3 linked regions of the Homo sapiens genome follow. The protein of the gene in region 2 interacts with the protein of the main gene of each other region in a biochemical or structural test. Each region holds a gene or a part of one and is shown on either strand. Other genes may lie near its edges. The genes, in order: TLE2, LEF1 and CDX1.

What was found.
Region 1: the proteins of LEF1 (region 2) and TLE2 form a complex in vitro, tested with the Homo sapiens proteins (one study listed by BioGRID).
Region 3: the proteins of LEF1 (region 2) and CDX1 form a complex in vitro, tested with the Homo sapiens proteins (one study listed by BioGRID).

What each region holds. Positions count from the first base shown.
Region 1 is NC_000019.10:3,022,534-3,026,280, reverse strand, and holds part of TLE2 (transducin-like enhancer protein 2), read left to right. Parts: intron 1-1,198; coding exon 1,199-1,261; intron 1,262-3,747.
Region 2 is NC_000004.12:108,078,191-108,081,937, reverse strand, and holds part of LEF1 (lymphoid enhancer-binding factor 1), read left to right. Parts: intron 1-268; coding exon 269-352; intron 353-2,323; coding exon 2,324-2,446; intron 2,447-3,555; coding exon 3,556-3,718; intron 3,719-3,747. UniProt on the Homo sapiens protein: Transcription factor that binds DNA in a sequence-specific manner. Participates in the Wnt signaling pathway. Activates transcription of target genes in the presence of CTNNB1 and EP300.
Region 3 is NC_000005.10:150,164,835-150,168,581, reverse strand, and holds the start of CDX1 (homeobox protein CDX-1), read right to left. Parts: upstream 1,805-3,747; 5' UTR 1,706-1,804; coding exon 1,261-1,705; intron 1-1,260. UniProt on the Homo sapiens protein: Plays a role in transcriptional regulation. Involved in activated KRAS-mediated transcriptional activation of PRKD1 in colorectal cancer (CRC) cells. Binds to the PRKD1 promoter in colorectal cancer (CRC) cells.

The sequences.
Region 1 (3,747 bases), on a different chromosome or scaffold from region 2:
GAGACGGGGTTTCTCCATGTTGGCCAGGCTGGTCTTGAACTCCTGACCTCAGGTGATCCACCTGCCTCGGCCTCCCAAAGTGCTGGGATTACAGGAGTGAGCCACCTTGCCCGGCCAATAGACCCAAAGATTCTAAAATTGACTTTAGTGGTCCATGCTTAATCCTGAGATCCTGAGACTGGCCAGTGGTTTCTAAAGGGATGAGAGGGGTCCCAAACTTCTGAGCTTCATGGGCTCCTAGATTCTATCAGAATATTAGAATCAATGAGCAGAACCTTGTATTGGGACTTCCCGGTGGCTGGGAAGGAGAAGGGGGTGGGCTGGGAGTGTGGGGTGCCTGGGGTTGCCCACCCTGGCATGCTTTCCTGCATGTGTGGGGGTTCTGTTGGTTCTGATGTGGGCAGGAGGGGGCTTGTCTGCTGAAGCATGGCGTGGTCCCATGGGTCCACGCAATAGACCCCCCTTTATGGGGTGCGGGACACCCTGGGATCCCAGTTCCACCCTCCTGGTGGGAATAGGAGACACAGACTTCGCCAGACACACAGCACACCTGTAACTCAGGCAGAGGCAAAGTCCGTGGCCATTGTATGCCCGCCCCCTTCCCCACCCACACGCCTTCTCGTCTGCTCAGCCTCTTTGGGGCACCTGGGCCCAGACCCTCTCCAGATGAAATCCTTCCCTTGAGTGTGGCGTGCTGAGATCTCCACCTGGAGGCATCCCCAGCTGGTAGATCAGTCCTGGGAAGCGGAGGAGACCAAGAAAGGGGCCTTGCCTGGGACAGACGTGGGCCAAGCCGGGGCTGGAATCTGGGACTCCAGGCGGAGGCCCCTTTCCTTTGTTTCAGCTGAGCCCAGCACCTCTGAGTGTCTGCGTCTGAGTTGGGTGTCTGAGCGTCTGCCTCCTGCAAATCCCTGGCGGGTGTGCGTCTGGCGGGTGGTGTATCTGTGACTCGTAGGACCTCAGCCCTGGTCTTCCCAGCTCCAGGCCACCCTGGGCCTCGCTCAGCTGAGCACGCAGCCTGGTGGGGCTCTGAATCCCACCTCGGCCCATGCCATGCTAGCCTGAGTTCCCTCTGTGCACCTGCGGGCGTCACCTCCCCAACCCTTCGGCTTTGCCAACACCTGGTCCGCCTGGGAGTCCAGAGCTGGGTTGCAAATCTCTACCCCGCTCCAAGCTTCCTCTCATTGCTTCCTGCCAGGCGGAGATTGTGAAGCGTCTGAGCGGTATCTGCGCTCAGATTATCCCCTTCCTGACCCAGGAGGTGAGTGGGCCTGGGGGTGGGGGGAGGAGGGGAAGGGAGCCGGAAGAAGACGGGAGGGGGTAGGTCTGGGCGAGGACGCCCCAGGCACTGATTCTGCCGCGTAGCCTGCAGCACGGATAGAGACCATTTTCACTGCAGTAGTCCCGCAGCCCTGAGGCCAGGCATCCCGCTGGGGCAGGGGCTGCAGGGATGGAGGGAGGTGTTGGCTGAGGGTGAGGACTGGGGGCTGTTTTCCCCCTTGATGGGAAGCAAGGCATAGAGCTGACCCCCTCAAGCCCTGCAAGTTGGCTGCCTGGGTCTGAATCCTGGCTGTGTGGCCTCAGGCAGGACACTTGTCTCTGTTTTTTCAGTAGCGTAGGTGTGAAGTTGAGATGAGCTCATACACCCAGGGTGCTGGAGATGATGGGTACGCTTACTCAGCACCTGATGAAAGTTAACCCTACCGTCTTGCTAGAAGAAGTCACTGAGGGACAAACACTGGGTGATCCACTCCTAGGAGGTCCCAGGGTCGTCAGGTTCACTGAGACAGAAAGCAGAATGGGGGGTGCCAGGGGTTGGGGAGGGGACGGGGAGTGAGAGTTTTATGGGGACAGAAATTCAGTTTGGGAAGATGGGAAAATTCTGGAGATGGTGCTGGGGATGGCTGCACAACCGTGTGTGTGCTTTATGCTGCTGAGCTGTGCACTTACAAATGGTTAAAATGGACTGTAATTCGGCCAGGTGCGGTGGCTCCTGCCTGTAATCCCAGCATTTTGGGAGGCTGAGGCAGGTGGATCACCAGAGGTCAGGAGTTCGAGACCAGCCTGTCCAACATGGTGAAACCCTGTCTCTGCTAAAACTTAAAAAAAAAAATTAGCCGGGCATGGTGGTGTTTGCCTGTAATCCCAGCTACTCGGGAGGCTGAGGCAGGAGAATAGAATTGCTTGAACTCAGGAGGCGGGGGTTGCAGTGAGCAGAGATTGCGCCGCTGCACTCCAGCCTGGGTGAGAGAGTTAGACTCCATCTCAAAAAAAAAAAAAAAAAAAGTTAGCTCTTCTGAGAGTGCCCCAGGTTCCTTTCATCCTCAGTACCTTTGCACAGTCCCTGTTTCTTTTTTCTTTTTCTTTTCTTTTGTGTGTGTGTGTGTGTGTGATGGATTCTTGCTCTGTTACCCAGGCTGGAGTGCAGTGGCATGATCTTGGCTGACTGCAACCTCCACCTCCTGGGTGCAAGCGATTCTCATGCCTCAGCCTCCTGAGTAGCTGGGATTACAGGCGTGCACCACCACGCCCGGCTAATTTTTGTATTTTTAGTAGAGACGGGTCTCCCTATGTTGCCCGGGCTGGTCTCGAACCCCCGGACTCAAGCAATCCGCCCGTGTCAGGCTCCGAGTGTTGGGTTTACAGGTGTGAGCCACTGTACCCAGCCTGCACTGTCCCTGTTTCTGTGTGGTACGTTCTCTCTTCAGAGAGACGTGAAAGATAGTTCTACTTCAGAGTGGATACACTGGGAGGATCCTTGATGCCTTGAGGACCAAACCCAGAGGGGAGATGCTCAGTTTGTTCAGATTCCACTGAGTCTGAGATTTCTGGAAGCTTGGGGTGGGGAGAGGTCCTGTGTAGACACAGAACATAAAGAGCATCTGCAGCGGAAAGTGGGGACGAGGTGGTCTAGAGAAAGGCAAGAGCCGCAAGAAGTTTAGGTAGGCCGAGCCCAGTGGCTCACGCCTGTAATCCCAGCACTTTGGGAGGCCAAGGCGTGCGGGTCATGAGGTCAGGAGTTTGAGACCCACCTGGCCAGTATGGTGAAACCTCATTTCTACTAAAAATACAAAAATTAGCTGGGCTAGTCCCAGCTACTCGGGAGGCTGAGGCAGGAGAATTGCTTGAACCCGGGGGGTGGAGGTTGCAGTGAGCCGAGTTCGCACCATTGCACTCCAGCCTGGGCAACACAGCGAGATTCTGTCTCAAAAAAAAAAAAAAAAGATTAGGTAAAATGACTGTTGAAAGGAATGAGTAAGGCACACATTTCCAGGAATTAGCAAACTGCAGCTCGAGGGCCAGCTCCACCCCTCCACTTGTTTTTGCAAATAAAGTTTTATTGACATAGCCACGCCCACTCATGTACATATCATTTCCAGCAGCTTTCCCATTACAGTGACAGAGTTTGGTAGTTGCAACAGAGACCTCTGGCCTGCAGAGGGAAAATGTTTTCACTCTCTGGCCCTTTCTAGAAAGTCTTCCAACCCATCCTACACACACCCACACACAGGTGCACCCCCATGGGAGCTCTGTATCCGCATCCTGATACCTCCTTGGTGGAGACAGCCCAGATGTCTGTCTTCAGGAGCGTGTATACACAAGCAGCCTCAGAGTGCATACAGTGGAATATACTACTGTTCCGCTATCCTACACGGCAGTCACCAGCCCCGTGTGATCATTTACACTTAGGTTAACTATTAATAATATTTAAATCTATTATTTTTTTCCTTAAAAAAATTTTTTTTT
Region 2 (3,747 bases):
GGGAGAGGGGATGGGATAAAAGAGATGTAATTCATGGATGGTTTGTTTCAAAGTTGAGGGTGGGAGATTTCTTTCAAGGCAAATGACACTTTGATTGGGTGGAGGGTAAGGAAGGGGAACGGTTACGTTTCTGAAACAATCCCGGGGTCTGTAATACTTCCACAAGATTCTGTTTGAATATCTCCCTCTTCTCCCCTCATCCAACTCTTACTACTGGTTGGTAACTGGTGTTTTGTCATTGATGGGTTCCTTTCTTCTGTGACCTCAGGCAAGGTCAGCCTGTATATCCCATCACGGGTGGATTCAGGCAACCCTACCCATCCTCACTGTCAGTCGACACTTCCATGTCCAGGTAGGTGGAGGTGGAAACTGGGGCGCTCGAGGACAAGTTGCTCTTCTCGTGCTTGCATCCTGTGCGCCTCTGCTTGCCTTTTGGTTGGCTAGGAGGGTGCATACCTCAGCCATGTGTCTGTCTGTGCAGTGTGCCTGGCTCCCACACTAGGTGTCAGAGAGAGTCCCGGGTAGGAGCTCTGCGCTGTGCCCCGGCCGGACCAGCCACACCATCGGGCGATGGACTCAGCCTCCTTGGAAAGCGTTGCCTCCAAACAAATTCATGGCCGCCTGACTGTGGGATGGGAACTGTCCGGAAAGCGGACATTACAAGAAGAGTTTGTTTGATTCAAAATATGCCGGGGGTGGGGTAAGGGAGGAGGATAAAACTGGTTTGGTCTCAGCTCTATAATTTGCTTCCTTTGTGGAAAGTTGTATCAGTTTGATGCGGCAGTGTTTGAAAATGCCCAGATAGTCTAGAGCCTTCCTGGATGGAGGCTGTCAGAAGAGACAGAACAGTGCGGACAGGCTGGCAGGCCATACAGGGTGTGCGTCCTAGTGTGTGAATCAGGCCCTGTGTGGACATGGTCATGCCAGCGGAGCTCGGGAGGCCTGCCGCGCCGCACCGAGAAGCTGCTGTGTGTGATGCTTTTGCTTCTGGAGAGGATGGCACTGTGCCCTGTGCTTGATGTACACACACATTTGGGGTGCATCATCTGTGTGTTCGATGTGGCTTTGTCAAGGGAGCTAGCATTATTGTGCCGGAAGTCAAACTGGTGGGTTATTAACTGGTTGTGAATATGTCTTTTTTATATGGGTATAGTATTCAAAGTTTCTGTGGTGAATTACAGCTTTAAAAAAACTTTTTTTTTCAGTGAGTTGTAAATGTAGCTGATTGTGGGAGGAGGTGGAATTAATATCCTTCCCCTTAAAACATATTTTTATACTTTTTAACATTGTAAGAACTATCTGATGATAGAACTCTCACAGGCAAATAACTATCATCATGTATTTTTGCAAGTAATACATTTAGCAAAGCATCATTATTTGGTCAAATATTTGTATTTTTACCATGCTTCCTTCATATTTTAAAATTTGTTTTTGAAAAATATATATCCTAGCAGAGTTCCTTTCAAGAAAAGGAAATTAATTGTGTAGGCTGTGATGAAAGACCTGAGAATGTTGTTCTTGCTGAATTAAATGTTTACTTTAAAAAGTTTGAAAAGCAAAAATTTCTAAAACATATCCAAATTTATCTAGAGAGCTTATTGAAAATACTGTCTTTATTTTATTTTTCTTGCCTGGCAGTTTCCCTCCTTTGTGTTGGCTGGTGGTGGATATTTTAAGATTTTTTTTAATGCTGTTCAAGCGTACTTGGGAAAAAGCCTTTGGCAAGTGTAGTTTTTAACCTTGATGCAGAACTTTATCCTTCCTTTAAATTCTTCTCCTTATTTCTGTTACCAGTTTTCCATAAGATGAGATCTCTGAAACATTAGTGTATTTCTGCACAGAAAATCATTTTGGATGATGTTAATGGAAACCTTATTAAATGGGAGACTGATTCCTATCCGTTTTCTCAGTTGTTCCCTCCTAATATGGATGAGGAAGCCAATAATATGAGAAAATTCCCATTGTGATGGTTTGCTTAGGAATATAGGCAGAGATTTTAAAACATGATGTGTTTTGCTTTCATTTAAAAATCATTTAAAAAGTCAAGTCTTAAATAAAGTGTTATATTTCCAATAATTACTTTTCGTGAAATTCCTATTTCAAAATTGCTTTGCAAGAAAAATGATTCACTTTTTTTTTTCCACCCGAATATAGAAAGAAAAAAATAATTATCGGCCCACTCTAATTTATAGTTAATGCTTCTGTGCGTAAAGATGTGTTTTTACTCTTAGCCAGTAGCAGTTAGTGGATTGCTTTGAAATTCCATCTAGCTTTTGCTGCAACAGCCAGTAGTACATTGTTTTCTTCTCTTTCCTCCTTTCAGGTTTTCCCATCATATGATTCCCGGTCCTCCTGGTCCCCACACAACTGGCATCCCTCATCCAGCTATTGTAACACCTCAGGTCAAACAGGAACATCCCCACACTGACAGTGACCTAATGCACGTGTAAGTATCCACCCGGGCTCTGCTGTGATTGCCTTAGGATACTGAGGATTTCTACACTGTTGCTCCTTTGCAACAGTGATCCTTCACCCCTTTGTGTTGCTGTGAAACTCAATGCACCTCTGCCTTGAAAACTCTGTCCCTGAGGACATTAAGCAGCTTCATTCCTACTGTGCTGATTTTGATTCTGAGGTTGCAAAGGAGCACGGACCCTAAAAGATCATGGGAACCTCACCAAAATGGAAGAATCTTCAGAACATAGGCATTCGAGACTCTTCAGCTGTTTAGCCATTTACCACTGAATTTTCATTTGGTTCAGATTATTGGGGAGAACCTGTTCCTACCTGAGTGAAGTAGATTGGAGGGTTTAATGCACTTTCTTCTGGAAGTGCAGTTACCCTGGCTCCAAGCTTCAACAGCACAGAATTCAAGGGAAAGGAACAAATAAAGCCCAGGATTCCCTGTTGGGCCAGGGTTGTCTCAGACTGTGAGTGCAGGCCTAAATTAATTTACTCTGAAGAGATGAGTAATTAGTTTCTTAATCTAGGTTTTGTGGATGGGAGGGTGGGGGTGAGAGGCAGCATGTGATGGTCCATAAAGCCCTTGCGAATGTATGCAAAGGCAACATGCATTTGTTTGGGGGAAAAGGTCTAAAGATTTATTAGCTTCTCAAAGTGCTCCTTAACCCCCTGCAAAAGTTAAGAACCTCTATTCTGAAAGAGGAATGATCACCTGTGCTGTGTGTTCAGCTTCTTCTGAGGGGACCAGAGAAGTCCTCAGCCTCAGAGCCCATCTGGAGCATCTTCACAATGCCAAGTCCATTTCTACTTGGTGTTCATAGTTCTATAATGACAGGTCCACTTTCTCAAACCAAAGGGTTTTATTCTCAGTCACTGAGTAGATAGGAAGCCCTATTGGATGGGTTGTTTGCCTCTCAGTGTTTTGTCAAATGAGTCAATAACTGCTCTTCCAAGTTGGTGGTGGTCTGGGGTGAGAGGGTTGTCGCCATCCTGAGTGTAGCCATGTGAGCAGGTGCTCTGCTTTTCTCCTCCCCCATCCCTTCCTCATTCCTTCAACCCCTTCCCCTAACCACCACCACCACCACCTTTTAGGAAGCCTCAGCATGAACAGAGAAAGGAGCAGGAGCCAAAAAGACCTCACATTAAGAAGCCTCTGAATGCTTTTATGTTATACATGAAAGAAATGAGAGCGAATGTCGTTGCTGAGTGTACTCTAAAAGAAAGTGCAGCTATCAACCAGATTCTTGGCAGAAGGGTAAGTAGCCGAGTCATGTGTAAATGTTC
Region 3 (3,747 bases), on a different chromosome or scaffold from region 2:
AGTTAAAGGAGTTAATGCATGCAAGATCTTACTTAGGTCATGCCTGGTCCGTTAGTTAAGTGTTCCAAAACATTAGCTGTTATTTAATCAAGGCCACAGAAGCAAGTGGCAGAGTCTGGTTCCCTGCATCTCCCTGGAGGCAGATAGGAGGTTATGTATCCCCGGGACTTCCAAAAAGGGGATATGATTATGGCCAGAACCCGTAGCTCCTGATCAAGGCCAACCCAGCATCTGCCCCGAGGCAAGCTGGGTGTGTGTGGGGAGATGGGGGTGAAGAGTGCGAGGAGGTGGGAGAAGTCCCAGGATTATTCGCAGCTGGGGTAAGGGGAGGAGGGGCTGGACATCAAAGGGTGGGCAGGCCAGCTTCCCGCCCCCAAGGCTAGGTGGCCTTTGTCAGGACAGGCCGGACACAGTCCGGACAATGGAACGTCGTGTTCACTTTCCGGCCAACAGGAGTCACTACCGAGCCAAGGCAGAGCCAGTTGCATGACAAAGGGGGGACCCATAACGGAGGTCAAGCCGCCCCTCATTAAAGTTGGGCCCTTTGTCCTGCCCCCTACCCTGCCTTTGAAGAGGGCGGATCAGAGAGGCCTGCCTGGGGGCAGGAGGTTCACAGGCTCAGGAGCCAAACAGTAGCCCCCCTTCCCACTGCTCCCGCTTCCCCTCCCCCGGGGTCAAGAGTTCAGGGAGGACCCTGAGAAGGTAAGGTACAGACCCCTTGCCCCAGTCTGGCCAAAGAGGGCTCTTTTTCAGCCTGAAGGATATGACCCAGCAATGTCTTGACTGTGTGATGGGGAGACCCAGCCCTGGCCAGGAAAGTCACCTGCCCTGTTCACACAGTTAGTTAATCGTCCCTTCTGGGGCGAACCTGCCGCCTTTGCCTAGGGCTGGGTTAGGAGTGGAAGAAGCAGATGAAGAGCACGGAGTCGGTGTTGCTAAATGAGTGTGGGACACGAGTCTGGGAGCCTGCGTTCTAGTTCGGGTCTTGCTCCGCGGCCGCAGGCGCATTTCCGCACTTCGCAGGGGGTCTCGGTTTCCCTATCTGTACAGAGAGAGGGTTAGGCTGTGCTGCTGAAGGCTCCGATAGCCTGAGACTGAGGAGAGGGAGCCAAAGAGCAGCCCCCCAGGGCGAGAGTGGACAGGAGGGCCACACTCCCGGGAACCCGAGCAGGGCCGGAGCAGAGGTCAGACAGGGGGCGGCCTGGGCCGCGCCCGAGCACCTGCAGGTCCAGAGGCGCAGGGCGAGGGAAGGGTCCTTACCGCTGCCACCGCCGCCTCCGGCCGCCACGCTGCGCCGCATCCACTCGTAGGGCGTCGGCCTCTGCGCTCCGGGCGAGGACGGTGTGCCCGGGCCCCCGAGGGGCTGCGCCAGGAGGCCCGGGCCGGGCCCAGGGGGCGCCGGCACCGGGCTAAAGTCTGGAGGGGGCCCGAATGCCAGCGAAGCTGGGCTGGCGGCAGGGGCCGCGGGGCCCGGGCCGTAGGCGGCGGCCCAGTCGTCCTTGGGCGCAGGGAAGGGCGCCCCCCAGGCCGTCGGGGGCGCGGGGGCCGGCTCCACGTGAGAGTAGCTGGAGAAGTCGGGGTACTGCGGGGGCGCCGGGGGCGGGGCCGGGGGGCCGTAGGCTTGCGGGCCCAGGCCGAGGCTGGCTGGCCTGGCTGGGCCGGGGTACACGGGCGAATCCTTGTCCAGCACATAGCCCACATACATGGTGGCCGCGGGGTCCCCCGCGCATGCTGGGCCCTGGAGCCGCCGCTGCCGGCCGCCCCGACGACGAGCAACCGCTCACCTGAACTCGGCTGTCCTGCCGCCGCGCCCGCCCCACCCAGGCCTTTTATAGCTCCGGGCCGCCCGCGGCCCCAGCCGAGGCGGGTTTGCATTTCAAAGCGGGGGGAAGCCTCCGGGCCGCGAATCAAAGGGGGAAACCCGTCGGGGGCGGGGGGTTCAAAAGGAGACAAATTGCCGCCCCAAGCGGGAGGTGGACTGGCCAGGGCCTGGAGGGGGTGGGGGCGCGGAGGGCGCGTCTTGGGCGAGGGTCGAGGCCGCGCTGCGAGTGGGAATCGCTTGCCAGGGAGCGGCCTAGCGGCCTGAACACCTTGTCCTTCCGGTGGCCGCGTGGACGGCCCTGCAGCCCCATTTTACAGGCGGAGGAACAAGCTCCCAGGGGCCGGGGGATTCTAGGCCAACTTCACACAGTGACCAGCTTGAGGTGAGGGGCAACGCAGACTTCAAACAGGGCTCCGGTCTGTAGGATCGCAGGTCCTTAATCTTTTGGCGGGGAGGGGTCACGACCCCTCTCGTCATGGAAGCTGTGGATGTTTTTCCCTGGGGAAATGCACATATGCACATACATACACGAGTCTTCCTTACAGTTGGGGGACTGCCTGGGTTGGCCTTCTAGAGAAAGTTCTCAAAAGGCAGTGTGTGTGTGGGTGTGTGTGTGTGTGAGTTAGGGGGGTCTTCTGGGGACATTACAGGAAACTTTTAGTAAATTATCTTGATGACTCTCTACCCTCTTTTTTTAATTGAGAGGTTTCAAGCATACACAAAAGTAGAATTGTATAATGAACTGCTGTGTACCCATCACCCCGCTTCAACAACTATTAAGGTTTTGTCACACTTATTTCACCTACTCCCCGCTTTTCTGAAGTATTTTAAAACAAATTCCAGACATCATGTCATTTTACCCCTACATACTTCAGCACGCATCTCTAAAACACATGGACATTTTCTTACATAATATGCCATTATCACATCTAGCAAAATTAACACAAATTCCTGGGTATTACCTAACACACAGTTCGTATTCAAAGTACTCCAATTGATTCAAAAATGTCTTTTTAGCAGTCTGTTTGTGTGAATCGGGATCCAAAAGCCCTGATCCATTTATTATGGCTGGAGCCCCCTTGGGATTTTAAATGCATCACGTGTTCCTCCACTCCATATGAAGGACTGGCAAACATTTCATAGCTACCTAAGGGGGAGTGGGGGCTGGGAACACTTGAGGGGGTGTCAGTGAACTGGGAGTGGGGACAAGGCTGAGGGATTTGGGGAAGGGTGCATGAAGGACAGGGCTCTGGGTCAGGAAGTCAGATGGGGTCCCTCCGCACAAGGGCTTTGTGCCAGGGAGCTGTGCAGAAGCACCCTGTGGGATTGGATGGGCCCACATTTCCTGGGTTCCTCTCATTGTGCAGGGATGTGTGGTCCCCAGAAGAAGGTCAGAATCAGGGTCTTATCTGTTCAACCCGTCTCTCTCTTGGGTCACCATATTAGCCGGGGGCTGGTCAGTATCATCTCAGGGCTGGGCAGATGTTTCGGGATCAGGACATAATTTGCAGGGCCGGGAGCAAAATAAAAAATATAAGGTCCCTTGTTCAAAAATGATTAAGGATTTCAGGATGGTGGCAGCAGAGCATTCACCTGAGCCCGGGGCCCTTCCACACACTGGGCTCTGTGTGACTGCAATGGTGACCCGCCTGGGAAGCTGGCCCTGGTGAGACTCTTGCTCTTCTGGGGCTCTGATATGTGATAGAGCCAGAGACTCAGCCAGCACAGGGCTCCCTCCGCTTCCTGCTCAGAGGAACCCTTTCCATTGCACAGGTAGAAGCATTGAGGCTCAGAAAGGAAAGGAGTAATGCCCAGTGTTTGCTGCAACATGAAGGCTGCTTGTAGGAGAGGGGAAGGGAAATCCTGGCTGTTGCTGACCGGGCGGAGCCCTTGGCTACCTTGCAGGAGCACATGGCTGTCCACAT